4 linked regions of the Homo sapiens genome follow. The protein of the gene in region 3 interacts with the protein of the main gene of each other region in a pairwise test. Each region holds a gene or a part of one and is shown on either strand. Other genes may lie near its edges. The genes, in order: ZNF148, CEP57, DEUP1 and EXOC5.

Evidence for each region.
Region 1: the proteins of DEUP1 (region 3) and ZNF148 interact in binary tests that used the Homo sapiens proteins (3 or more experiments, as listed by UniProt).
Region 2: the proteins of DEUP1 (region 3) and CEP57 interact in binary tests that used the Homo sapiens proteins (3 or more experiments, as listed by UniProt).
Region 4: the proteins of DEUP1 (region 3) and EXOC5 interact in binary tests that used the Homo sapiens proteins (3 or more experiments, as listed by UniProt).

What each region holds. Positions count from the first base shown.
Region 1 is NC_000003.12:125,372,322-125,380,241, reverse strand, and holds the start of ZNF148 (zinc finger protein 148), read left to right. Parts: upstream 1-4,916; 5' UTR 4,917-5,140; intron 5,141-5,532; exon of another isoform or gene 5,533-6,015; intron 6,016-7,920. UniProt on the Homo sapiens protein: Involved in transcriptional regulation. Represses the transcription of a number of genes including gastrin, stromelysin and enolase. Binds to the G-rich box in the enhancer region of these genes.
Region 2 is NC_000011.10:95,828,487-95,833,214, reverse strand, and holds the end of CEP57 (centrosomal protein of 57 kDa), read right to left. Parts: intron 4,029-4,728; coding exon 3,884-4,028; intron 2,190-3,883; coding exon 1,959-2,189; 3' UTR 522-1,958; downstream 1-521. UniProt on the Homo sapiens protein: Centrosomal protein which may be required for microtubule attachment to centrosomes. May act by forming ring-like structures around microtubules. Mediates nuclear translocation and mitogenic activity of the internalized growth factor FGF2, but that of FGF1.
Region 3 is NC_000011.10:93,389,725-93,396,756, reverse strand, and holds part of DEUP1 (deuterosome assembly protein 1), read right to left. Parts: intron 2,315-7,032; coding exon of another isoform or gene 2,299-2,314; coding exon 2,101-2,298; intron 519-2,100; coding exon 432-518; intron 9-431; coding exon of another isoform or gene 1-8. UniProt on the Homo sapiens protein: Key structural component of the deuterosome, a structure that promotes de novo centriole amplification in multiciliated cells.
Region 4 is NC_000014.9:57,230,884-57,237,915, reverse strand, and holds part of EXOC5 (exocyst complex component 5), read left to right. Parts: intron 1-549; coding exon 550-578; intron 579-2,095; coding exon 2,096-2,205; intron 2,206-3,883; coding exon 3,884-3,928; intron 3,929-4,032; coding exon 4,033-4,173; intron 4,174-5,166; coding exon 5,167-5,249; intron 5,250-6,200; coding exon 6,201-6,410; intron 6,411-7,032. UniProt on the Homo sapiens protein: Component of the exocyst complex involved in the docking of exocytic vesicles with fusion sites on the plasma membrane.

The sequences.
Region 1 (7,920 bases), on a different chromosome or scaffold from region 3:
AAGCATCCTTAAAATAGACCAATGTCATCAGCCTTATAAAATTGTTGAGGCAAAGATTATGCTCAGAAATAAAATATCTGAAAAATGGCAGTTTTTTTTTGCAGGTTAATTTTTTTTCCTAGTGCCATCTACCTATTGCATACCCTTTTTATTCCCCATGGAAAACATTCTGAAAGGTATTTTCCCACCTAAATCACCTCTCTCAACATGTTCTTTTTTTTTTTTTTTTGTCCTTGTATAGTTTCTCTTCTTTTCCTCACCCCAATCCACTTGTAGAAACTGATGTCTTTTCTCTATTGAATTTTATTTTTAGGAAATTTGGTTCAGTGTTACCTTTAGGTTATTTTAAATAGTAATAATAGCAACTACAATATCAACACCACATAGAACATTTAACTATGTGTCAGTTATTGTTCTAACTGCTTTACATTGCCAGGTGTGGTGGTTCATGCCTGTAATCCCAGTATTTAGGGAGGCCGAGCTGGGAGGCTCGCTTTGAGGCCAGGACTTTGAGATCAGCCTGGGCAATACTGCCAGATCCTATTGCTACAAAAATACAAAAATCAGCCAGGCATGGTGGTGCACACTTGTAGTCCCAGGTACTCAGGAGGCTGAGGTGGGAGGATCACTTGAGCCTGGGAGTTTGAGGCTGCAGTGAACTATGATTGTACCACTGCCTTCCAGCCTGGGCAACAGAGACCTTGTCTCTAAAATAAATAAATAAATAAACAAACACTAAACTACTCTATGTTAATATTTAATAGCCATAATATCCCTAAAAAGAAGGTACTATTCTTAGCTCCATTTGCTAGATGGGGCACTTGACAGCACAGAGAGGTTAAGTAACTTAAGATTGCAAAGCCAGTAAGTGGTAGAGTCAGGATTCAAACCCTGGCTTCAGCTGCAGAATCTGTGGACTTAATCACCAGACTAACCTCTAGGCACTAGTAGATATTATCCTCATATTATTTATTTTTTCCTTACCCACAAATATCATCCTGGCCCAAGACCTCATTTTCATTCATTCTTATGTATCTTGGCCTTTCAGTGGTGTCTTCCCTTGTGCCCCTCTAAACCATAGTTATCTCACAACTGATGAACTTTAGTGCAACCTAGTACCTTCTTTAGATGTTTCTAAGAGGTGCAGGGTTTTTTGTCTCAAACTCAAGAAATTACCTCCACTCTATATCCTCAGCAGGAGACAGTAGACTATTCATTAGTTTTAGAATATATCAGCTATCTGGGATGCCCTTTGCCCTCCAGCGGAGGGCTAGGTAAGAGAGAATAAACAAAAAAGCTAAGAAATTTCTGGCAAATAACCTTTCACCTAGGTCCCCAACCCTTCCATTTCCCCAGGCCTGAAGCATATCTGAAGCAGGAATTCAGGGGGTCCCAGGATGTCCCAGGAAAAGAACTCCTTTAGGAACAGGAAAAGCCATATTTTTCTGGGTACAGTAGGAGTGACGCAGTAGAGGCAGGTTCTTGTGGATTAATCTGTAGCAAAGCTATGAATTTAGAGTTTTGCAAAGAAAAGGACAAGTTTATCCTTAAGGTAGAACCAGCTTTGACGAATGGCTAGTGCTGCAGGGAGCCATAAGGATAGAGAAGACAGAACTTCCATCTAGTCTTGAGTCTGAGAATACTAGAAAAAAGGAAGGAAAGAGATTACTAGAGGAGGGTCTGAAGACCTGGTGAAGCAGGAAAGAGATGGAAGTACATTCTTCTCCTGGAAGGAGTGCAAAGACCAAGCCTCAGAACTAATTCCAGAGCCAGAAGAGAGGAAAGAGGCCTTGGGAGTCCCTGAGAATCTCACCTGTCAGAACAGCGGTGCCAGCCTCTATGGGTTAGGTCACATCAGAGAAGATATACCGGGGGCTATGGACTTAATCTGGCCCACAGGCATGTTTTGTCTGACATGCTTTTGTGTTCTTAAAAAAAAACAGAATGAGTTGTCAACATTTAATATTTGTGAGGTTTCACCCCAAAACTCAGATTCCTGACTTCTCTTGATTTCCTAAATATTACATTCCCCCTTGGAAACCATCAGCTGGAAGTGTCTGTGCCCTTTAGATTTGCTTGAGCTGTGGACCTTTATGTTTAGGTTAAAACATCAATCTCAAAAGTTTACATGCTGTATGATTCCACTTAGATAACATTTTTGAAATGATGAAAGTATAGAGATGGAGAATAGTTTAGTGGTTACTAGAGGACAGGCATGGAGTTGGGTGAGCGGTTGCAGTGCGGAAGGGGATTTGTGAATACCAAAAGGTAGTATGAGGGAGTTCTTTTGTGGTGATGGAACAGTTCTATGTCTTCATTATAGGAGTGGTTACAAGGATCTGTAAGTGAGGTAAAGTTGCATTGAACCACACACACACACACACACACACACACACACACACAAAACAGAACACAGGTTAAGAAAATGGCAAGTAATAAGTTCTGAAGTCTATAGTAAACAGTAATGTACTGTTGTCGATTTCCTGGTGTGAAAGTTGTCACAATCAAAATGGAGTTACTAATGTTAAGAAACCCTGACAAACAGAGCTAGGGAAGGCTGCCTACGAAGAGAGGGTTCTTACATTTGTATACCTGATAACAAAAACTATCAAAAAAAGACTGCAAAACCCACAACCTTGCACAAAGGCCATCACAACCTTACATAAAAAAATACTTCTGCAAGGACATCTCCCCAGCAAATGCCTGTCCAACCTCGGACTGGCGTCACCCTTGTTATTGATCTTTGTAGTCAAGGATAATTATTTCAAAACAATTATGTAATCCTTTCCATTTTTTCCTTTAAACACCTTTGTCTTCCTTTACATCCCTGAATATGCGGTTAACTGTGATGTGTATATTTTCATTGCAATGCTCTATTCCCAAATAAACATTATTTTCTTTTAGAAAGCCTCTCTGTTATTTAGGTTGACACTGATTTTGATGTCTTACTAGAGCTTTGTAAGATGTCACCATTGGGGAAAGCATGGGACTCTGGACTATTTTTGCAACTTCTTGTGAGTCTATAATTATTTCAAAATAAAAAGTTAAAAAAAAAAAAAAGGAAAAGTAAGTAGGCTGAGTACCTACGGGTGGTGTTTAGGGAAGTGAGCAAGAGGAGCATGGAGAGCCAACCTGAAGCTGAGAAGTTTTTCCAGTTTAACTTATAAAGGACCTAAGCTTGCTCCTCACCATCGCTTTTGCTGTTACTATCCCTGTAGTGCTCTTCGTTCTGCCCATTTTAGACAGCTGTTTCTCTATCGCTTGTTAGGCTGCTGAGCAGAGAACTAGATCTATTCCTAATAGCAAACCAATCAATCCTAGCCCATTGGATGTAACCTCCAGGCCTTGAGCCCTTTTCAGTTATTAGTTTTCCCACTGCCTAATACTGAGAGTCGGCTTTCTTGCTGCCAGAGGTGTTTTTCATTATGACGTCTGAATTTGATGCCACTGCGGGTGCTAGAAGTTGCCAGAAGGCTGTCCTCCAGATAACTGTCCCTTGGCTCTAACTTGTGTCATTGTTTTGTTGCAATTAACATTCAGAATATGTGCGGTCATCTTATTAAAATTTATATTTTTTAATGGAGAAAGCACACAGAGAGAGTTGATTGTGGAGCTGTGGTTTACTCTTGCTCTTAGTTACCTGTGTCTAAATTAAGCTGAACCTCTGGGCCTTAGCTATTTCTAAACAGGCATCACGATTTACTAAGGTTAATGCCTGAGGGAACATTAACCTTGCAGACACTAATCTAATTCAGTGTCATCACAAGTGCATAATGCAGGAGTTTGGAATTTTGCCAAAAAGCACTATTCAAATGAACATTTAGTTGGCAAGGGGTGGGAAGGCGGGTGTGGAAAAGGGAAGGAGAACACCAGAAATGGCTCTATAGATATTTTCATGCCTTTTCTTTTCCCTCTCCCCTCAAAGGTTACGTTTAAGTATTGCAGAGAGGCGCTAAATGGAATCTTCATATTATTATGAAGAAATCCCAATGAACGCGTTTTATCCCACGGCAAGTTCCAGATGCTCACAATTACTCAACATTCACTGAGCATCTTTTATGTTATATGGCTGACCTTGTGCTAGGGTGTGTACACAAAGATGAGTAATTGTAAACGATGGCAGTATGCAGAAGCACCTCAGGGCGCCTAATGTTAGCTGACGAAGGCACCATTAAGGAGGTCACAGTTTGGCTAAAGGGCCCCCAAAGGATGAGACAACTGTGTAATCCTAGCTCTATAGAGATCATTACCAAGTCTTTGCCATACAAAGTTTGGGCTTCAGGTGAAATGAGAAGGGCAAGGTTCTGCCCAAGAGGGTCCAGGGCCGGATCTCTTGATCTGTGTCTATGCCCACACCCTGCATCTCAGCTTGCAGACACTAATAGGGTTTGCCAGTTTCAAGGGCGCAGGGCTACATCTTCCGGAAAAGGTGGCATTTGAAGGTGGTAAGAGGCCAACGACTGGAGGTGGCGGCGAAGGGCTAGGTAAGACAGAATAAATGAAAAAGCCAAGACATTTCTGGCAAATAACCTTTCACCTAGGTCCCCGACCCTTCCATTTCCCCAGGCCTGAAACGCTCCCGAATCCCCGAGTCCTCCACTTTCCAAGCGCTGGGCATTGGTTAAGGCTGTAGGAGCAGGGAGTCCCCCGCTCTAAGAGAGTTCCTCAGTTCCGATCTTTTTCAAACCGCTTTCCTCCCAGGCCCAGCCTGGGGGGCCTGCGGCTCGGGTCCAGCTTCCACGGCCACCCTGGGCTGGTGACACGCAGGCGCCGGAATCGAAGCCACGCTGTGTCTTTCCAGCCAGGTCTCTGCGCCAGACGAGGGCGGGCGCCGCGGAGCGCTTCCCGTGTGCGGGGCTTCCCACAATGCACCGGGCCGGCAGTGGCGGCGACCGCGGCGGCGCTCTAGCTGCGGCATGTCTGCGTCTCTACTGCTCTGGGAGGAGGAAGAGAAGGAGGAAGAGGAGGAGGAGGAGGAGGGGGAGGAAGAGGAGAAAGGCGCAGGGGTGGGAGCTGTTGCCGAAGCTGCCACAGCAAAAGTTCTCCCCCCTCCCCCCTTCCCCTCCTCTCAAGGCCCCTAGAAAGGTTGGAGCTGCCGCCGCCTGCAGTCGGTGACCGCGCGACTCGGCGCCCGCCCGCGGTAAAGCGCTCGGCCTGGCAGGCCCGGGCCCGGGGGAGGGCGGGGGAGGGGGAGGGGGCGGCGCGCGGGGGGAGCGCGCGGCGGTAACGGCCTGACCCCGGGGGGAGCGAGCCGTGGCGAGGCTGGGGGTGGCCAGGGGGCCAGCCGAGGCCGAGGGAAACGCTGGGGCTGGCTGGGGGACGTGAGGAAGCAGGGCGCGGAGGGTGGGTTGGGGGGTTGAGGAGGGATAATGACGGGGGTGGCGGAGGCGAGAAGGCGGCCTCCGAGGCTGGAGGCGGGTGTCAGAGGTAGGGGAGGAGGTGGGATGTTTGCACGGGGAGGCCGGAGGGTGCTGGGTGTGGGTGTGAAAAGGCTAGGGAGACACCAGGGCTCTGTCCACCGTGCCTGGTGCAGTGCTTTATGCACCGCAGGCCTCAGTCACTGTTGCTGCCGGAGTGTGCTCTTTGGGAGAAGGGAAGGGCAGGGGTTGGAGAAAAGGGAATGCTTGCAGGAAACGTAGTGGGAGTGCGAACAGGGCGAGGGGCCGGAGGAAAGATGCCGGAGAGGTGGAGGAATGCGGGGAGGTGGCTGTGGAGGAGTCTTGAGGATTCTGGGGGGTGTTCATTGTGCAGATACGTTAGGTATTTCATTATGGAAAGAACTGAAGCGTTTCTCAGGGAAGGAAAGAAGGGAGATAGGAGTTCCCGTGAATAGAAAGGATCGCGTTTGAAGCAAGAGGGAGTGCTAAATAGTAGAGAAGATGCAGGGAATGCATAATAGAATAGACAGATGTAGTATAATTAATAAATATTGGCCTAAGTACTGAAGAGTTATTCCAGATGGGCCGGGATGGCCTAGTTCCGAACCTGTGTGGGCTGTTCAGTAGATGACATCTGGTAAGTGTGGGTCTGGGCCGTGGTTGGGGTCACTGAGAATTAGATTTTAGTCTGTAGTTTGGTCTGTGACATTTTAGACGTGCACCAATGAGTATGAGAACCTCTGAAGCAGACCTTGAGAAAGGGTCTGGCCTGTGGGGATTCCTTAGGCTATGGAGCTTCGATTTTAGAAAATTTGAAGTATTAACACTTACCCGAGGTTGGGTAAATACTATCCTGGCAAACGCTGGAATGGAAATTAATTGACTTGGTGGTTTTCTTCACTGCCCAGTTTATCTGGTCCAGGAGAATTGGTGCCGTATTATTCAGCCTGGATTGCAGTACACAAGATTATAATTAATGGTCGGGGGGAAGACATGCTTGCTGGCTCTTCTTTAGATACTTCATTTGTAGCTCAAATTAGTTGGCTGGATTGGTTCCATAAATCTGTGGCTGGTGGGAGATCTTCTGCCATTCACAGTTCCTGAAGTGAACTGTGAGGGAGTTCTCCAGTGAGAGAATACTCTCATTCAGGCATGATGGCATTGAAGAAAACGTATCAGCCAGCAAAGTGTGGGCCTGCAGAATGGAGGAGCTAGAATATCTGTTTTGGTTTTAGGTTGCAAGGAGGTCAGGACTAGTTATCAGAAGGTCTAGGGGAACCTAGGAGACTGGACGACTCTAGAGCCAGGTTGGAGGGAGGATTAGCATCTCTATGTCAGGAAATGAACCAAGCTCTCTCTGGATTTGCTGAGCTCACACCAGACCAGATTTCCAAGAGGGAACTCTGGGCTAGAACCATACTCTTAAAAACTACCCGGATATTATTCACCTTTTATTAAGAAAAAACTATATACAGCTGGGCGCGGTGGCTCACACCTGTAATCCCAGCACTTTGGGAGGCCGAGGCGAGCGGATCACCTGAGGTCAGGAGTTTAAGATCAGCCTCGCCAACATGGTGAAACCCCATCACTATGTGAAACCCCACCATGCCAGGCTGGTGTCGAACTCCTGGCCTCAAGTGATCCGCCCGCCTTGGCCTCTCAAAGTGCTGGGATTACAGGTGTGAACCACCATGCCTGGCCAGGTCTTTTTTAAACATAGTATGCTGTACTCAATTTTATTGTCATCATGGCATGAGAAGGCTAGTCTTCCTTCCCTTTTCCCTCACCAGCACTGTATATTATCTGTTCTTTTAATTTTTGTAAGCAGAATGCACTTAAATATGTCATTATTGTCTTTCTACCCTTTTTAAAAAAATTTTTATTTATTTATTTTTTTGAGACGGAGTTTCACTCTTGTTGCCCAGACTGGAGTGCAATGGCGTGATCTCGGCCCACTGCAACCTCCACCTCCCGGGTTCAAGCAATTCTCCTGCCTCAACCTCCCAAGTAGCTGGGACTAAAGGTGCCTGCCGCCACCCCTGGCTAATTTTGTATTTTTAGTAGAGATGGAGTTTCTCCGTGTTGGTGAGGCTGGTCTCGAACTCCTGACCTCAAGTGATCCACCCGCCTTGGCCTCCAAAGTGCTGGGATTACAGGCGTGAGCCACTGTGCTCGGCCTCTACTCTTTTATTATAAAATTGTTCTGAGGGAACTTACAATGAAAAACAGCAGCCCCTGTCTCACCTGCCTATTGCAGTTCCACTTTACTGAGGCTGCTACTTTTAAGCATTAATTTTGTATTTCTTACCATGCTTTTTTCCATGTCTCCAAGTAATGGGCATATAATATTATTTCTTGATTTATCAAAATGACATTATCGGAGTCAGAAGATGTTTATGAATGTGTCATTGACATTATCCCCTTTCTCCTCCTTTCTGACCTTTGATATTTATTTTAGTTATTTTATTCAGTGTGTTTATATTTTTAAATAATATGCTTAAACCTTGATTTTAGAATCCAACAATCTTAGGCTGTATCTCTT
Region 2 (4,728 bases), 2.4 Mb from region 3:
TACTCTGCTGTTCACAATTGCCTCATGTAATCTGCAGATTCCTGCCTCCCCACTTTGGTTCAGTCTGTCTTGTGCACCTGGAACAACTGTTCTCCCTTGTGACTAATTCCTATTTTCTAGAGTTTAGGCATCATCTCTTCCTTTGGGAAGTTATCTGATTCACGACTGCCTTCTCTGACATCCCCACCTTCCTCTGTGCCCCCATAGCACTGTGTATACCGCTACTACCACTGCAATTCACATTATATTGGAATGAACAATTCACATGTCTACCACAAGTCTGTAAACATAACCTTATTTGAAATGAATTGCAATAAAGCTCTGTTACAACGTAAGTGGATGGATGACACATTCCTCTACTGTAAACTTGCAGATAAGAAAATGGAAGCAGTATTTTTTCACTTCTCACCTGACAGTACAAAAAGCTGGAGTAGTTCAGTTTGAATCCTAGCTGAGAAAAGGGGTGGGATTTAGCATCATTCAATCACCATTCTCCTAATTAGGACTCAGAGCCACTACAATTCAAATGATGGTTATACAATTTAATGACCTGAAATTCAAACAAGGAGATAACAGGAGTTTTTAATAGCTGAAATGGTGGTTGACACATATATTTATCATGTCACCAGAGCACTGTTTCTCACTTCCCTTGTGTCTATGGGCTCACAATTATTAATTCAATCAAGCTACGAACCTACTCATTAGAAAACTGGACACAGAAGCACAAGTTTACAATTTCAGGAGAGTCACAAATAATACCCCAAAATCTTAAGGATCCTAAATTAAAGCCTGTTACTGTAGTATCTTGTATCATGAGGAAATCTAATATTCTTGGGCTCTCTTTCTATGTAAGCATGAGTGTGGCAACTAAGTACTAGTTTTTTCTCTTCATCAATACATTGATGTCCTCCTATTTAGAAATGCATTTTTTGAGAGCTTGTCACAAAGCCTTTATTAACAGGCTGTTAAGGAAAGTTGCAGTGTTTCCTTTAAAAAGGTGCTTTATTGACTTTAAATTTATAAAAGGTTAACATGTCTTGATCTAGTTGAAATTATGATTTATATCAACATGATAATTATGTGTACAGTTTATATTCCACTCATACTGTACACCAGTAAAAGCAAATATTCAAAGGGTTCTCTAAGTTTCAAGATTAAAAACCATAATGCCTTGACTGAATATCATGATTACAAAACAGGTATTAAGAACTGTGAAGGTATATGCTCACAACATATCCCTTCTCCCATTCTCACTTTATTCCAAAATCTCATTTATTTCACTGACAATTTGTTTATACTTTCAAAAATCCTTTTATAATTTTTATAGATATAACTCAAAATGACTGCTTGGGTCTTTAAAAAATTAACAGATTAAAAAGCAATACAAGTGCACTTAACACTGATCAAAGTCTGAAATGCCAAAAAGCAAAATAAAAATCCTCTGAAATATATATGTATTTTTAAATATAGAAAAACTCCACCAATAGTAGAAACAAAGTATGTTTAATGGTTGCTTTGGAAAGGGGAAGTGGGCACCTCATGCCAGGGAGATTTAAAAATGAGACTTTTCAAGCAAGCACTGCCTATAGCATAGTCTCATATTTTGAAAATTTAAACCTAATTTTAATTATATATAAAGAACTATTTTAAAAAATCACACCCACAAGTAAAAAACTGGTAATCTGTTTACAAAGTGCAGCGTCAGTACAGCAAACTCATCTCAACAAAAGATTATGTGTGGTTTCTCGGGCTTTAAAACTCCCCTGGTTTCCATTTAAATGCTTTAACATTGAGTCATCCTGCATACATGAAAAGCCTGTGTAATGAAGCCTGGGTCCTTTAACACCTGCTATTAATTAATTCCAACATAAGTGAGTATGAGACCTGGGAAGTAAATTGTCATCATCTGATTGATGAGGTACAGATTATCTGAATAAAATTTCTGACCTGGTTATGAGTCAGTAATCCCAACACAAACTACTGCTTTGTAATGAATTCTGTATGCTTTGCATGTCCTTCAATAACTGAAGATTTTTTCTCCTTTTTTCTCCAGGTCTCAGTTTCATAAAATCTTTCTTATTTGTGGTCCCTGTGATTCCAGAACGGCTGCTGCTGTTTCTTTCTTCATCAAGAGTCTTTTTGGTAGCTTTTAATTCCTTCTTCTGCTTCTCTAACTTCTGTTTCTCCAGCTATACCAAATAACCAAGGCAGGAAGGAAAAGGAGAATTTAATGAAAATATTTTTTTTCTGACAACAAAAAGTACAAGAGTACCTTTTTTTGGTTAACTCTCATGCTAACTGAAAAATAATACATTCTAGGCTTTCTTTTAAAGACTTCAAAATCTACTGCACTAGTCATTTAACACTTAAATATTAATATAAATAAATATATGCTTATATATATATAAAACAATACACAAACAAGTAGACATGAGTAAACAAATTCTGGTTGTCCTAAATTAAGGCAATATTGCCAAAGTACAGAACAGGGCGAGTGAGAAACAAGGGGAGTTGAAGGAAAGACTCATGAAGGAGGCAAAAAATCAGACACAGAGAAAAGAAGAATGGGAAGGATTTTCACAAATGGGAGAAGAGGAGAAAGATATTCTAGAAACTAGTCTGAGGAGGCAAAGAAGCAATTTCCAGATGGATGAACAGATGTAATTGGTAATGTATTAATACTATGAAAAGAATTTTATTTTTGTTCCATTATTTTTAGAATAATTTTAAATACGGGAGCTTTATTTTTACTTTAGCCAAACTGATGCTGGCATGTTGGTGTTCCAATAGAATAAGTCTAATTAGTATAAGCAACAAATTAGACCATTACTCCTTACTCCTACAGGAATAATTTGCTTGTATTTCTTTTTCATACATGAACTTTGAAAAAACAGCCAAAGTTTTAGAGTTGAAAAGGCTAGTTTCATCCCAGCTCTGCCATTTCCCAGTAAGCTGGTACTTGGGCAAGTTATTTAATTTCACTGAGGATATATGCATACTTCCCAGAAAATGTGGCTTAGCATCTACCTCATCTATAATATGAGAATATACCCACCTCAGAAGCCTTTTGTGAAAATTAAATGAGAAGATATACTCAGAGCACTTGGCACTGTGTGTCTATCATATGGCTACCAATCAACAGTCAACAAAACTGTTCTGCTCTCTGAACTTCTCAGCTTTCTCCATTTTAGTCAGTGGAATCACCATCCTAACTCCCTCTCCTTCTACATGATACCCAGCAGCAAGTAACCCCAATATTTTTTTTACTTCCAAAACATACCTCAAATCTGTTTACCTCTGCCCAAACCCAACTACTGTCTTGCTGACCACCTCTGATACATCTATAGCTGATCTCTCAGCCTCTCTGCCTTGATCCCATTACCCTACCCCTAGTCACTACAGTAATCTCTTAAATATATGAATCATGTTTCTCTCTGGTTGAAAACCCTTGAGTGTGATGTCACCACTGCATCTGGTAGTACTACATTGTTGGCTGATATAAAATGATTAGCAACATAAATATATTTCACATATTTAATGTATGACTTATTCCTTTGGAAACAGAATTTCGCAGGTGCTTTTAAAAAAACTTACTTGGATAAACTCCAATTTAAATTCATCAAAGAAGTTAAAGCTTATTCATAAAGAATATTAAATATATTCAGTATTTGAAAGATGTTTCTTAGATGAATATGCTAAGTGACTAAAAGTGTCTTCTTTCTTAATCCACTTACCAATTCTCAATGAACAAATGTCTTCAGTAAAGAAGTATCTCCTGTAGATATTTATCTATGATACACTTAGTGTCATCATTTAATATTTGAATTAAAGTGTTTTTTTTTTCTTAATCATTAGAAACTTGAGTGAAGGAAAACTGAGTTACCTGGGCTTGGTATTTTCGAACTTTAGTTATTTGGTTGGCTTTTGCTTCCATCCTTCCCACTAATGCCTCCAATTCACACTCCAACTTGTCTTTCAGTTCAACGGTTGGCGACTCCTGGATAAGTTTTGCAAGCTGCTGGTGATCACTATATACAAAGCAGAAGTAGAACATGGTTAAGTTTTCTGTGTTTCATGGTTAGGTCTATTATACCTCATTATGGGTTACTGCTCCATGTGTTTAAAAAATGACTCCATTTTTTGAACAGAGCAATAAATTTTTTTTTTTTTTTTGAGACGGAGTCTTGCTCTGTCGCCCAGGCTGGAGTGCAGTGACATGATCTCGGCTCACAGCAAGCTCTGCCTCCCGGGTTCACGCCATTCTCCTGCCTCAGCCTCCCGAGTAGCTGGGACTACAGGCGCCTGCCACCATGCCTGGCCAATTTTTTGTATTTTTAGTACAGACAGGTTTTCACCCTGTTAGCCAGGATGTGATATGCCCACTTCAGCCTCCCAAAGTGCTGGGATTACAGGTGTGAGCCACCATGCCTAGCCTAGATCAAGAAATTTTTAATTAAAAATATGAATTTAAAAGTTCAAGAAAGGCACTAGAGGGAAATGCAAGAGTTCTTAATTTCAAGGTTAATTCTTTATATTCTTATTTTCCCCAAAAGAGTATTGTATATGTAAAGTCTACAGATGAATCTTGCTCTTCAAACACTCATGTCTTATCAGTTAAGTTTAGCTAAAATGAATGTGATGTCAGGTGCCAGATGATGATGTAGTAAACAACAGACCACATATACAACAGTGGTCCCGTAAGACTTTAGTATCATATTTTTACTCTAC
Region 3 (7,032 bases):
GCCATCCACTGGGAAAGTGACAAGCAACAAAACAAGTCAGAACAAAATACGAACTAAATGTGGCATTCATTCTGACTGGGGTTTCAGGGGTGGCTTCGTTGAGGGGAAGATTGGCACTTGAATCAGGCCACATAGGATGTAGGATTTCAAAGGCAACAGCAAGAAGAAAAGCAAGGAAATAGCATGCTTGGCATATTTGAGGGAAATGATCAGAATTGAGCCCAATCCAACCAAAGAACAAGGGAGAAAACCAGACATTCCAATGTTCTAGCCTGAGGATAAAAGTAACCTCAACTGAAGCACAAGATAATTTACCACCCAACTCCTTCATGTCTAACACACAGCAAGTGCTCAATAAATGATGTCTAGGTTAATCGTGACCAATTCAGTAATCTCTTTGTTCAATTTATTGAATGATGTCAGCATATTACCATGTATTCTCCGGGGTCTAAATCTCCCATCATTCCTTTTAGATGTGTGTTTTCAGTTCTGACAGCTTTATATTTCATATCTGAGACCTGAAATTAGCAGATAAAAGGCAAATGTAAAATTCATAATAAAAACTCATAATTCTATTAAAATTTTGTCTTGTGAATACAAATATTTTCTAAGTGTAATGAAGGGAAACACTTCTTCGGTACGACCAATAACATTCAGGTATTCTTATTTAGTTCTCCTGTCTTTGGCAGGCACCACTTTACGTCTTTTTCTGATCAATGCTAAACTACAAGCATATACTTTCAATAATGATTCATTTAGTTTTGTCCTACAATCCCAAAATTCCATTTCTGGTTTCTATTTTCTATTGTATGCAAATTGTCACCAGAAAAAGCACATGTTAAAAGCATGTTTGAGTAACTGTCCATTAAATTTATTCAACACCTGATTAATTTTTACAATAGGCAATACATAACTTTCATGTTTAATTTTGTTCTGATATTTCTGCCAAAATTCCATCTTTTTTAGTGACTACTTCATTTTGTCTCTCAATTTATTTTATCTTTCCCTGATTTATTCTACTTGACAGGACTTGGATATGGTATCTGTCCTTTTACTTCTCTAGGACTCATTTCTGTATAAAACACGTGCCTTAAAAAGATTTAATTTTGTAAATTACCAATTTATGCTCATTGACAAAACCTAGAAAACGTACAAAAATATAAAGGTGAAAATAAAAATTATTCATAATCCAACTAGCCAGATCACTGTTAACACCTGTAAAATATCCCTGCCTATACAGGTACAACCAAAGAGATTATCCCATCTGTGCTGTTTTCCTGTGTACTGCAACAATAAATCACGGTTTAAGGCTTACAACTGGGCAAAGGCTAAATCTTTTCTGTTTTCATAATTCACGATTTTAGTCATGTTATTTGTGAAGTGACCCTCATATGCCTAGAAAATTATTAAATGATGCTCTCAAAACCTTTAGATTTGGGGTAAAAAAGCAGATAAACCCTGTGCTCTCAATAGTAGGCCATCCATTTGATCATGAGTAAGGGATGGAGGGAATTTAAAAAATAAATAGGCAGGAAGGAAAGGAAGGATGTAGAAGTTACTTGTAGTATTTTAACAGAAGAATGTTACAATTGCTGTTTTTCCTCACGTACCATGCTGTGCATTGACTGCATGTTCAGTAAATATGAACTAATTTTCATGTTTCAACATCCATTTGTAAAAAGCCTGAAAGAAATACATGAAGTGTGGGGGAGGGGTAGGAAGTGTTGAAGAAGAGCTGGAATAGAGACTTTTTTTTAAAGATAAAAATGTTAATGGAAGAGAAATACAGAAAAACATACTCAGGAAGAAATATTTGATTAGAGTGTACTGTGGGAGGTGATCAGAATATAGGTTACAAGAAAATGGAAAGATGAGATTTAATGAAATTGTCTTGCACTGTCATTTCCCTAGTCCTTTTTGTTGGTGACACTTTGTGTTATCTCTGAAAGGTTTTATGTAACACCACAAAGCATTTCTGTGAAGCTAGTCTCAGAAATAATACCAAGAAATGTAATGTTTTCATTAGTCAATAATGAAGGCTACTATTGGCACTGAGCAAGAATGTGCCCTAGACAAGTGCTATTCTGCCTGCTTGCATACCTTTTGTTTTGCTAACATTTTTTCTTTTATTTCTAATTCCATTTTTAACTGTTTTTCCAGAAGGGCAGCTTTCTTTGTGACAGTTGCTATAGTGATCTCCTTCTGATGAAGCTCTTCTGTTAGGTCAGAGATTTCATTCCTCATTCTTTCCTGCTCAGAGTTATGGTACTCTTCCACCTGTTGGAGTTGGCTTCTTATCTGCAGCAGATAGAGACTGGAAATATTATTGAATCCTTTTATTTATAGAGTAGCTTAAAATTTTACTGGCCATGTTCAGTCCTTCTATTCTGAAACTTTGTCAGGGCCCACTTCACCCTCCTTTTCTGATCAATGCTAAATTAAAAACAGATACATATAATAATGACTCATTACCTTTTTTCCTTCCAATTCCAACATTTCATTTCTCACTTCTATTTTCTGTTGTATGCAAATCATCACCTATGACTGATACTACTTTGATAACCACTTTGAGAGGAAGGTAAAGAAAGTATTATCAAGCATTTTCATGGAGAAAAAAATTGGCTTTAAAATGGTTACATGATTTGCTCAAAGTCATAAAGCTAATAATCGGCAAAGCTAGGACTGGAATCTAGGACTCTTGGCTTTAAATTCAGTGCTTTTTTAAAACTAAAATAGGCTGTACTGTTTGTAACTAAACATTTGTTTCTCAGAATCACATTACAGTAAACTTCAAACAATGTCTTCATGAAAACTCATCACTTCCCTTACTTAAGCCTCTTATTTTCTGAATCTTGGCTAAGCTTCCATGTTACAAACCTCTGGATTGTCTCTGACTCCTCTCCACCCTTGTCCTCCCAAACCTGGTCAGGCAATGAATTCTGTCCATTCTATTTCAACCTCTTTTAAGTCTTGCCTCTGTCTCCATTCCTACAACTGCTGTCTTTGTCTAGCCTCTTAGCATCTTTCTAGAAACCATTACTGTTTCTAATTCTTGAGACTTAAAGTACATAATCATCCGTCTAAAAAAAAATCATAGTCCATTGGGGAAACAGAAAAATAGACGATTACAACACAGTGTAGCAATTAGTGTCAGCAGTATGTAGTGGCAGTGTGTTTAACCCAGCCTAGGGATGACAGGATAGGATTCCCAGAGGAAGGGTCATCAGACCCAAAACTGAAGGATGAATGAATGCCAATTAGAGATGCTCTAGCCGGGCGTGGTGGCTTGTGTGGGAAGCTGAGGTGGGAAGGATGCCTGGAACCCAGGGGGCAGAGGTTGCAGTATAGTGGGCTGAGATCATGCCACTGCACTCCAGCCTGGGTGACAGAGCAAGACCCTGTCTCAAAACCCTGTCTCAAAAAATAAAAATAAAAAAAATAAAAAGGCATAGAAAAAAATAGAACATATAGATGCTCTATGAAAAGTAAAAACATTAGCCGGGTGTGGTGGCATGTGCATTCAGTCTCAGTTAGTCGGGTGGAAGGGGCACTGGGGTGGGAGGATCCCTTAAGCCTAGGAGGTCTAGGCTGCAGTAGGCCCTGATTGCACCACTGTATTCCAGCCTGAATGACACAGCAGGATCCTGTCTCAAAAAAAAAAAAAAAAAAGAAGGAGGAAGAGAAGAAGAAGGAGGAGGAGGAGGAGAAAGAAGTAGAAGGAGGAGGAGGAGGGCTCAGAGGAGGAGGAGGAGAAAGAAGGAGGAGGAGGAGGGCTCGGAGGAGGAGGAAGAGGAGGAGGAAGAGGAGGGAGGAGGAGGAGGAAGAGGAGGGAGGAGAAGGAGGAGGGATCCCAGGCAAAGAGCTCAGTGAGTGAAAGCATGGCACACTCAGTGAACTAAAAGGAGTTTAGGGTAGCTAGGAGTTAGCTGCTCTGAGAAATAAGGCTGGAGAGTTAAGTAGAGGCTAGCCACAAAAGAAACATGAATTTTCTCCAGGGCACTTTTTTAAAATGGATTTTTTTTTTCATTTCACCTTTAAACATTTCAGTATATATCTTTAAAAGAACAAGGCTCTCTCTTTTTTTTAAATGTAGCCAGAATGTTATTACAATGTCTGTAAAGATTAAGAATTCCTTAATATCATCAAGTATCTAGGCAGTATTCAAATTTAAGCTTGTCTCAAAAATATAATAAATGTTGTTTAAGTTTAATTGAATTAGTATCTAAACATGATCCATTCATTGTGACTGGCTCATATATCTTTTTAAAGCCTCTCTTTTTGTGTGTTCTAAGTAGTTTACATGCATCATCTCATTTAATCCCCACAATGTCTCTCTATTTTGCAGACTACTGTATTTAGCAGATTAGAAAATTAAGGTGCATAACTTTTCACATCACATTTCTTGTGAAAGGCAGTCTAATTCCAGGACCTGTGAACTATTGTGCTCTGCAACCTCTGTGGGAAGGGTCCTGGAAGGTGTGGAAGGTGGTTCACATTTGGAAAAACCTGAGTTTTAGGGGTTGACACCTACAGAGAGATTGGAAAAATCTGGGTTTTAGGGGATGACACCTAGAGTGAGATCAGAAAAAGCTGTGTTTTAGGGGATGGCACTTAGAGTGGGGTGACCTAACATGGAAAGTACACATGTCCAGAGGCAAATGTGATCACCATCAGGCTTTATGCCACCAACCCTTCCTTCATCTGATTCTATTCATATTACCAGCATATTCAGAGTTTCAGAGTTGGATATGACCTTAGAAATCACATGATCGAACCTCATCATTTAACAGATTTTTTTAAAAAAGAGTCACAGGAACGAGAACAAGGCGGAAACTAAGAGACACGAGCACAAGTATCCTAACCCGGAGGACAATATTACAAATCTCCTTTAAATCTCTTCTGTCTCCAAGTTTTTACCTTCCAATTTATTTGATGAAATAACACGGTCAGTCTATAGTTTGTCCCAGTATGGATTTTGCTGATCGCATCCCTTTGGCATAGTTTAACCTGTTCCACTTAAAATGGAACTTTTTTTTTTTTTTTTTTTTTGAGATGGAGTCTTGCTTTGTCACCCAGGCTGGAGTGCAGTGGCACAATCTTGGTTCACTGCAACCTCCACCTCCCGGGTTCAAGTGATTCTCCTGCCTCAGCCTCCCGAGTAGCTGGGACTACAGGTGAGCACCACCATGCCTGGCTAATTTTTGTATTTTTAGTAGAGACAGGGTTTCACCATATTGGCCAGGATGGTCTCAAACTCCTGACCTCGTGATCCGCCCACCTTGGCCTCCCAAAGTGCTGGGATTACAGGCGTGAGCCACGGCACCTGGCCAAAATGGAACTTTTAAAATATAAAAAAATGAATATACTACTGTGAAAAAGGAGTAAACTATTTTTATTATTTTCACAATATTTAGATGTTAACACAACATACTATACTGCAAAACTTCTTTCTTAATGAAAGAAGAAACTAATTTACCTGAACTCCAAATGACTTTTGGTTTATTGAAAATGTGAATGTTATCACAAAATAAATGGCTAAAACAGTTCTAGACTGGAAAAAAGGAAAAGAAATAAAATACTTGCAAGATTCATAATACATAGCTCTTGTTAGTTTTATTACAAAAGAATTAAAATGCTCTTCAGAAACACTTGGAAGCTTTTTTTTTTTTTTTCCTGAGACAGAGTCTTGCTCTGTCGCCCAGGCTGGAGTGCCATGGCGCAATCTCGGCTCACTGCAACCTCCGCCTCCCGAGTTCAAGCAATTCTCCTGCCTCAGCCTCCTGAGTAGCTGGGATTACAGGCGCCTGCCACCGCGCCCAGCTAATTTTTGTATTTTTAGTAGAGACGGGGTTTCACCATGTTGGTCAGGCTGGTCTCAAACTCCTGACCTGGTGATCTGCCTGCCTCAGCCTCCCAAAGTGCTGGAATTACAGGTGTGAGCCACCATGCCCGGCCACTTGGAAGCTATTTATATAAAATTCATTTGTTACCTTTTTTTTGCACAGCATTCTGGTATTTAGTGGCCTCCAAGGGTCTATAAAGAATTCTGTGCCTCATACTCTCTCCCACCATGTCAAAACTGTGCAAAGTCAGTAGATTCTTTATATTACTCAAAGTTTTATTACTTTATCTAAATCTATGAGGTTAAGAATCATGTAACTATACTTTAGGTGGCTTTAACCAATCTTTTATCATTCACTGGGGACACCAGTAAAAAAGAGTTTTTCAAAGTTATATTTTTAAGTCAGCAAAATAAATTTTGTGGGATTATATGGCATTAAAGTGTTCAAAATATATGAAAAATGATCACTGATTCATAACACCTTTTCTCTACTTAACCTCTGTTAGTTCTCTGACAGTCAACTCTTTGGCAGACAGTACCTGTCTTTCATATTATTGTGTTTCCTATAGAAATTAGCAGAATAGCTATAGTTCTCCTAGATACTCAACAAATGTTTGTTAAATTTGTACAAACAACTGAATTTATGACCCTATATATTTATGGGAAAATTTAGCCTTAATATTAACTCATTCTCTAAGTATTTAATTTACTGTGTGTCAAGCACTATGCAGTGCACTAATTGATAATTCAAAGCCACACCCAGGTTTATTTAACTTTTAATTGTTTAGATTTTATAGCATTAAATATTCTGCCTGATCCTCAAACCTAAAGACCAGAGAGGTGGAGAATAGCTATGATAAATTCACAGAAAGAAGGCCATTACTGGATTGTACTAGAGGGAGGAGAGAATCATACTCTTTGTAGGAGAGTAAAGAACCACAAGCTCTTTAAGGACAGTGCCCAGGACTTACTCATCCTTGTATTTCTAGCTCCAGCAGAGTTCCTGGCACATGTTAGGTGCTCAGTGAAAAAATGTGGGTGCAATAAATAACTACTGAGCCAATATTTACTAGATACTTCCTCTGAGCTAGATCCTATTTTAAGCACTTTAAGTGCATTATCTCATAGATTTTACCTTAGGGTAAGAGTATGGATACTGGAGCCAGATTGCCTAGATTGAAACATGGCCT
Region 4 (7,032 bases), on a different chromosome or scaffold from region 3:
GCTACTCTGCTAGGCACATTGCTGGGTCTTATCATTTGTCATTAATATATCATCATATAATATATTATTTGATCATCTTTTTCTTTTGAATAATAATGATGGAACTTTATTTTTAAAAATACCAACCATGGGAATGGGGAGGGAGACAAATAATCAAGTGTATTTAAAATGCCAGCAAATAAAAGTAAGAACAGTAAGTCAGTTTTGGGACTGGCTGGGTTGTTAGTGTCTTATGCAGAGCAGTTGATTCTTTAAAAAGAGAATTGATTTTCAATGTGAATTTCCTAAATGAGAACCAGCTACCTACCTACATTAAGTTTTATCACCTGGCATGCTTCCTATCAGAATTCTCTCCTCTGATTTTGTCTTTTTTCTTTTTACAATAACCTTTTAACTTTATAATGGTTTTGGATTTACAGAAAAGTTGCAAAGATAGTACAGATGGTTCTCGTATCTCCTGCACCCAGTTTCCCATTTGGTTAGCATCTTACATTGCCATAGGATGTTTATCACAACTAACAAACCTCATGGTTGGTTTTTGTCTTTCAGATTTTCAGAAGTTAAATCCAAAATTGCAAGTAAGTGATGTATTTATTTTACCTTTTTTTTAATAAGTAAAAAAACTACTTGTGTAAAAATAAAACAGCAAAAGGAGAAAAAGCAGGAACAATGTCATCTTCCTACCCTAGTAGGCTACTGCATAGAAGATCCCTGAGTTTGATTTCTCTTCCCTCAAAACAACCATTACCAGTTTTTTTGGATATTCTTGCAGAATAATCTATGGATATACAAGCATAAGACATAAATTCTATATATGTGTGTGTGTACATATGTATGTGTATGTATAGATATTTATATGTACTTCTATCCTCATTTATTTTTAAATAATTGCTACCATACTATATAAATAGCTTTATACCTTGCATTTTTAATTTAATAGTGCATTTTGGAAATCCTGTGCTTTCCATACATCTATCTCTGAATAAGATTCTCTCTTTTTTTTTTTAAGATTATATAAGCATTTCAGTATCTATTTAACTCCTTACATGATTAGTTTGGTTCTTGCCAGTCTTGGATTTTAGTTTAGGTTAGATCATTCTAGGTTTTTGAAAAGACCACTAAATTTGCAGGTTCTGTGGTAGCTGGGGTCACTATTTAGAGTAGGCCACTGCATAGAAGATTCAAAGATTCATCTATATTCCCAAAAAGTCTTAGAATAAGGATGACACAGCTAGTTAGACTTCCTGGGAATATTTTTGATCACAATAGATTGGTCTGAAGTTCAGGTGTTCGTTAAGAACCATACTAGCCTCAAGAATATAGTGAATAGGGCCGGACATGGTGGTTCGCACCTGTAATCCCAGCACTTTGGGAGGCCGAGGCGGGTGGATCACCTGAGGTCAGGAGTTCGAGACCAGCTTGGCCAACATAGTGAAACCCCGTCTCTATTAAAAATACAAAAATTAGCTGGGTGTGGTAATGGGTGTCTATAATCCTAGCTACTCAGGAGGCTGAGGCAGGAGAATCGCTTGAACCCAGCAGGTGGAGGTTGCAGTGAGCCGAGATCGCGCCACTGCACTTTGACTGGGTGACACAGAGAAACTCTGTCTCGAAAAAAAAAAAAAAAAGAAAATGAAAAAAATATAAATACTGCATATTATCAGGATGAGATTTGGTGTTCAGTCATCAGTCCACTATTGTTCTAGGTAGAGGCATCAGAACTCTAGTAAAGAGTTCTGTAGTCCTCTTCACCCTTTCCATGTGTAGGATTTTTCATGTGTGTTGCTATCAGAAATAGCATCTGGAGGATTTTTTCCAGTCAGCTACTGGTTTAAGTAACAATGGCATATGACAGTCAGACCCTGGAAAGCTCAGTAATTTTGCCAGTTTGGAAGTTTTTTGTCTTGAAAATATAGATTTATATGCCACAGTATATTACAGGGGCTGGGTTCACGGCCTATAATCTCATTTGTTTTTGTAATTCCTTCAAAAGAAAGCTATATTCATAGTCATTATATTTGTAAATAATGTAGATACTCTTAAATAACGTGGATGCCTTGTATGCCTCAGTGTAGCTGAATGACTTTATTTTTAGGTAAATACCATGATTTAGAATGCCAGCTGATTCAGGAGTTTACCAGTGCTCAAAGAAGAGGTGAAATCTCCAGAATGAGAGAAGTAGCAGCAGTTTTACTTCATTTTAAGGTAAATAGTAGGAATTAAAAATGAATAGTGTTCAAGGCTATGGAAATTACGTAAGTTCTATATATTATAGTCTCTGATTTCCCCCATTCATTATGTAACTATCACAGTGATAATTTTCACTGTTTTGAGTAATTTGTACATTTGATACTCTGTAAATGGTATTGAATGTTATATATTTAATATTTAAGGTTTTATATTCAATAATATTAATATTGAATTAAAATTAATTGATCAATTAAATATTGATGAATTTTTATACTTTGATAAAGAAAATCATATTGTCTGCCTTTTTGCTTCCACATATTATAATATAGGTGAAAAGAAAGAAAACGTGACCGTAAATATCTGTAGGATATAGGAACCAGAGAGTAGATGGAACATGACTAGTAAGAGACTTAAATCCAGGGGACCTCAGGAGGTAATACAAAAGAATTTTGTATTACGGAATTGTTTACCTAGAATTTGAACTCGGGAGAGAATCCCTGTGTAGGAGTATATTTCTGCAAAGAAAGTGCTTAAAGAAATGGTTCTTCCTTCAATCTGTTTCTTTGATTTGTATCAGATTAGGGAAGGGGAAGCTATTTGTTGGACTTTTCATTTTGGTAAAATCTGAATGAGTATTGAGAATGGCTCTTGAGACAGTAGTGCACTTTATATTGCTTTCCTTACTGGTTTTTATGTATGATTTATTAATAGGCAAAAATCTCATTATGGTGAGCTTAATGACAAATCAGTTTGTTTTAAACACATTTTATTAAAATACATTTAGTTTAAAAAGTAAATTTCCAAACTACCAGCTGAATACAACTGTCCAGATTCTTGCAAGGAAAACCAAATGCTAGAGAAGGCCAGGCGCAATGGCTCACTCCTGTAATCCTAGTATTTTGGGAGGCCGAGGCGGGTGGATCAGTTTAGCTCAGGAGTTCGAGATCAGCTTAGGCAACATGGTGAGACCCTGTCTCTACAGAAAATACAAAAATTAGCCGGAGGGGAGGCATGTGCCTGTAGTCCCAGCTACTCGGGAGGCTACAGCAGGAGGATCGCATGAGCCTGGGAGGCAGAGGTTGTAGTTAGCCAAGATGACACCATTGCATTCCAGCCTGGGTGACAGGAGTGAAATCCTGTCTCAAAAAAAAAAAAAGAAATATATATATACACATATATATATATATACACACACACACACACACACACACACACGTATATATACACACTTTAATATATATAAATATATTTATATGTATATAAAACACATACATATATATATGTAAAACCTTTTCCCAAGACCTTGACTCTCTGTGTATGTGTGTGTTTGTGTGTATGTGTGTGGGTGGGTGTGAGTGGGTGTGTTTTGGAGTTGAAGGAGATGGCTAGATGATCATAGGACAAAAATTACTCTAAAGAACTCAGTTACATACTTCATCTTTCTTGTTTTAGTCTAAAGTTCAACAAGGATATGTACCAACTGATAAATTTTATCATAGAAAGTGACTAGGGAGACGATACCTTTATCAAGTTACTGGTTTTCTGCAGTTAATTTTATTTAAGTCCAACAGGTGTTGCTATTGGCCATTTACTGGTAAATAGTCATAGCTTTATGACATATAACACTTCTTTTTTTGAAATAATAATTATTATAATTGAATCAGAATAATAACAATGTGTTTCTTCCTTGTAGGGTTATTCCCATTGTGTTGATGTTTATATAAAGCAGTGCCAGGAGGTAACATAACAGTACACTTTGTTGGATATTATTTTATGCTAATTGTTGTTTTAAAATCATGTAGAAATTATATGTTCACTGTATAAAATGTCTCTGCTGTTTAGGGTGCTTATTTGAGAAATGATATATTTGAAGACGCTGGAATACTCTGTCAAAGAGTGAACAAACAAGTTGGAGATATCTTCAGTAATCCAGAAACAGTCCTGGCTAAACTTATTCAAAATGTATTTGAAATCAAACTACAGGTAATTTTAAATAGTAACAAATTAAATAGTTCTTAAAGCAATATGTAATTTTTTCCCTATATTTTAAAAGTATTTTTAAAATTTAGTTTACTTATGTAATGACCTTAGAAATAGTAATCTAGTTAAGGAGAAAGGAATCCTCATGCTTTTTAAAAAATGTTTTGTATTCACCAAGAAGAAAGTGCTAATCAATAAGTATCATCAGAGAACATGCTTGAAATTTGTGTAGTATTCGTAGTAGTAGTATAATATATTGTGGTAAGATAGCCTTGAAGATTTTTCTTTTTTTTTGGTCCCTGCCTTCACCAATAGATGTCATTTGTGAAACTGAACAAGAATTACAAGAGCAGTCTGTAGAATTTTTAATAATATGGTACTAACCTGAAAAGGGAAAACACAGAAATTTAATTTACCCCCATATCACTGTACTTTCAGATAACATTTCCTAAGCTGTTTACAACTGGATTAAACAACATTCAATAAATGTTTGCTTTTTTTTTTTTTTAACACAATTCAGGAATTTTGATAGTATTGTCATTCTCTAGAAGTGGGGATGTAATGTACAGCATTTCACACATTTACTGTCTAAGAAACCCTGTTTTGGAGTAATGCCTATAGACATCTGAAGGAACACTAGTGTTACCTGGAACTCAGTTTGGGAGATGCTGCCTTAAGGAATTGACTCTATTGTTTGTACTCTCAGTTTTGTTTTTTTGATGCACCTCACAGAGCAGAATAGGCCAATTTAACAGAAAAGGTATTATTCCTAAGACTGATAAAGATCCTCTACAGGTAAATATGAGAAGTGGTAAAATGTAAAAACCTGTTTTAAAATATTTTATGATTGGTTTGTTTTCTGTAATTGCCTTTTTGATTGGATTGTAAGTCAGAAAGGTTCAAAACTGTGGAGTGAATTTTAAAAGAAAAATATCTTGAGAAGTTGTAGAATTTAATATTTACCTAATTAACAGAATGTTAACCTTTTTCTTTTAGAGTTTTGTGAAAGAGCAGTTAGAAGAATGTAGGAAGTCCGATGCAGAGCAATATCTCAAAAATCTCTATGATCTGTATACAAGGTAAATTTTTAATGATTAGAAAATAATAGATAACAGATTTTTTAAATTTTTTTGATAAAAACAAGGAAGTATTCAGGTATTTTTGAATAAGTTTGTCACCAGTTTACCTTTTAGCATTAAATGCTTAGCTGTATAGACTAGTTATATTGTACAAGACTGTATTGTACAACATTCTTAATACATTAACGTCAGGAATTGGATGTTATGCTTTATTTTTTCTCTAAGCATTAGTGTAATTACATTTATCTGCAGTCAAAACTTTAGAAACTGCAAAAGGAAGTGATGTAATCTTAACAAATGACAATTTCAGCTCTAAATCTTCTGTAGGAATTTGTCTTGTGCTTTTGTAAATGTCAGTGTTACTCTTAGAGATTGTCTCAGAAGCTTCATATGGAGTCTTGTGGGGTTTTTTTTTTCCTTGACTTTTCCCAACCCTATTACTCTTCTTCAGTGTCTTCATTTTGGGAGAAGGTTTTTCCAAAGTTACCGTAATGAGGAAGTCCATCTCAACAACAACACTGTTATGACCCTATCTTCAGCAATGGGAAATAGAAAATTAGAGGGAAAGTCCACAAGGACAAAACAAAAGAGGGTGAACAGACAGTAGATCTTTCAGTACTCTGTTTTGGGTCCCATGTGATGAATGGCATTAGACATACTTGAGGCCAATCTGCCACTGTCGCCATTTCTGGACTAGTTAATTGCCTCACAAGTTCTTTTCCTAGGAATTTATAACAGTTCTCAAAACCGTAAAGTTGTTCGTAATATTTCACTGTATTTATATGTAACCCTGTAGAGTTGATCTCTGCATCATAAGTACTCTCCCAGAGTTTAAGAAATGGTGGCTTAACATAAGTCATGAAAGTCACGTTGTAAAAATTTGTATTCCTTAATATTGTTACTATACCTAAAATGTATATTAATCTTTTTCTCCCCCTTTTTCATGAAAAGAACCACCAATCTTTCCAGCAAGCTGATGGAGTTTAATTTAGGTACTGATAAACAGACTTTCTTGTCTAAGCTTATCAAATCCATTTTCATTTCCTATTTGGAGAACTATATTGAGGTGGAGACTGGATATTTGAAAAGCAGAAGTGCTATGATCCTACAGCGCTATTATGATTCGAAAAACCATCAAAAGAGATCCATTGGCACAGGAGGGTGAGTATTTTTGTTAAATACTTCTGTTAAAACTGAAGACATTAATAACTTCATTATATTTGGGCAAATTATCAAATGTTGACTATCATTAGAATTTTCTGTGAAGAGTTCTTTTAATCCAGATTGTTATATTATTGATCAAATCTTGTTCTTAAACCACATGTTGAAATGACCTAACATAACATGATTGAAATGTAAGCCGGGCGTGGTAACTCACTCCTGTAATCGCAGCACTTTGGGAGGCCGAGATGGGCTGATCACCTGAGGTCTGGAGTTCGAGACCAGCCTGGCCAACGTGGTGAAACCCCATCTCTACTAAAAACACAAAAATTAGCTGGGCGTGGTGGCAGACACCTGTAATCCCAGCCATTAAGGAGGCTGAAGCAGGAGAATCACTTGAACCTGGGAGACGGAGGTTGCAGTGAGCCAAGATTACGCCACTGCACTCCAGCCTGGGCGACACAGCAAGACTCCGTGTCAAAAAAAAAAAAAAAAGTAAAGTAGATATTTGTCAATTAAAAAATAATGTTTTAAAACTATCGAGCAGAACACTAGTAATATAAAAAGTTCCATAGTTTCTTTCATTTTTTTTTTTCTCGATAGAATAAGTTCCAGGTTATTG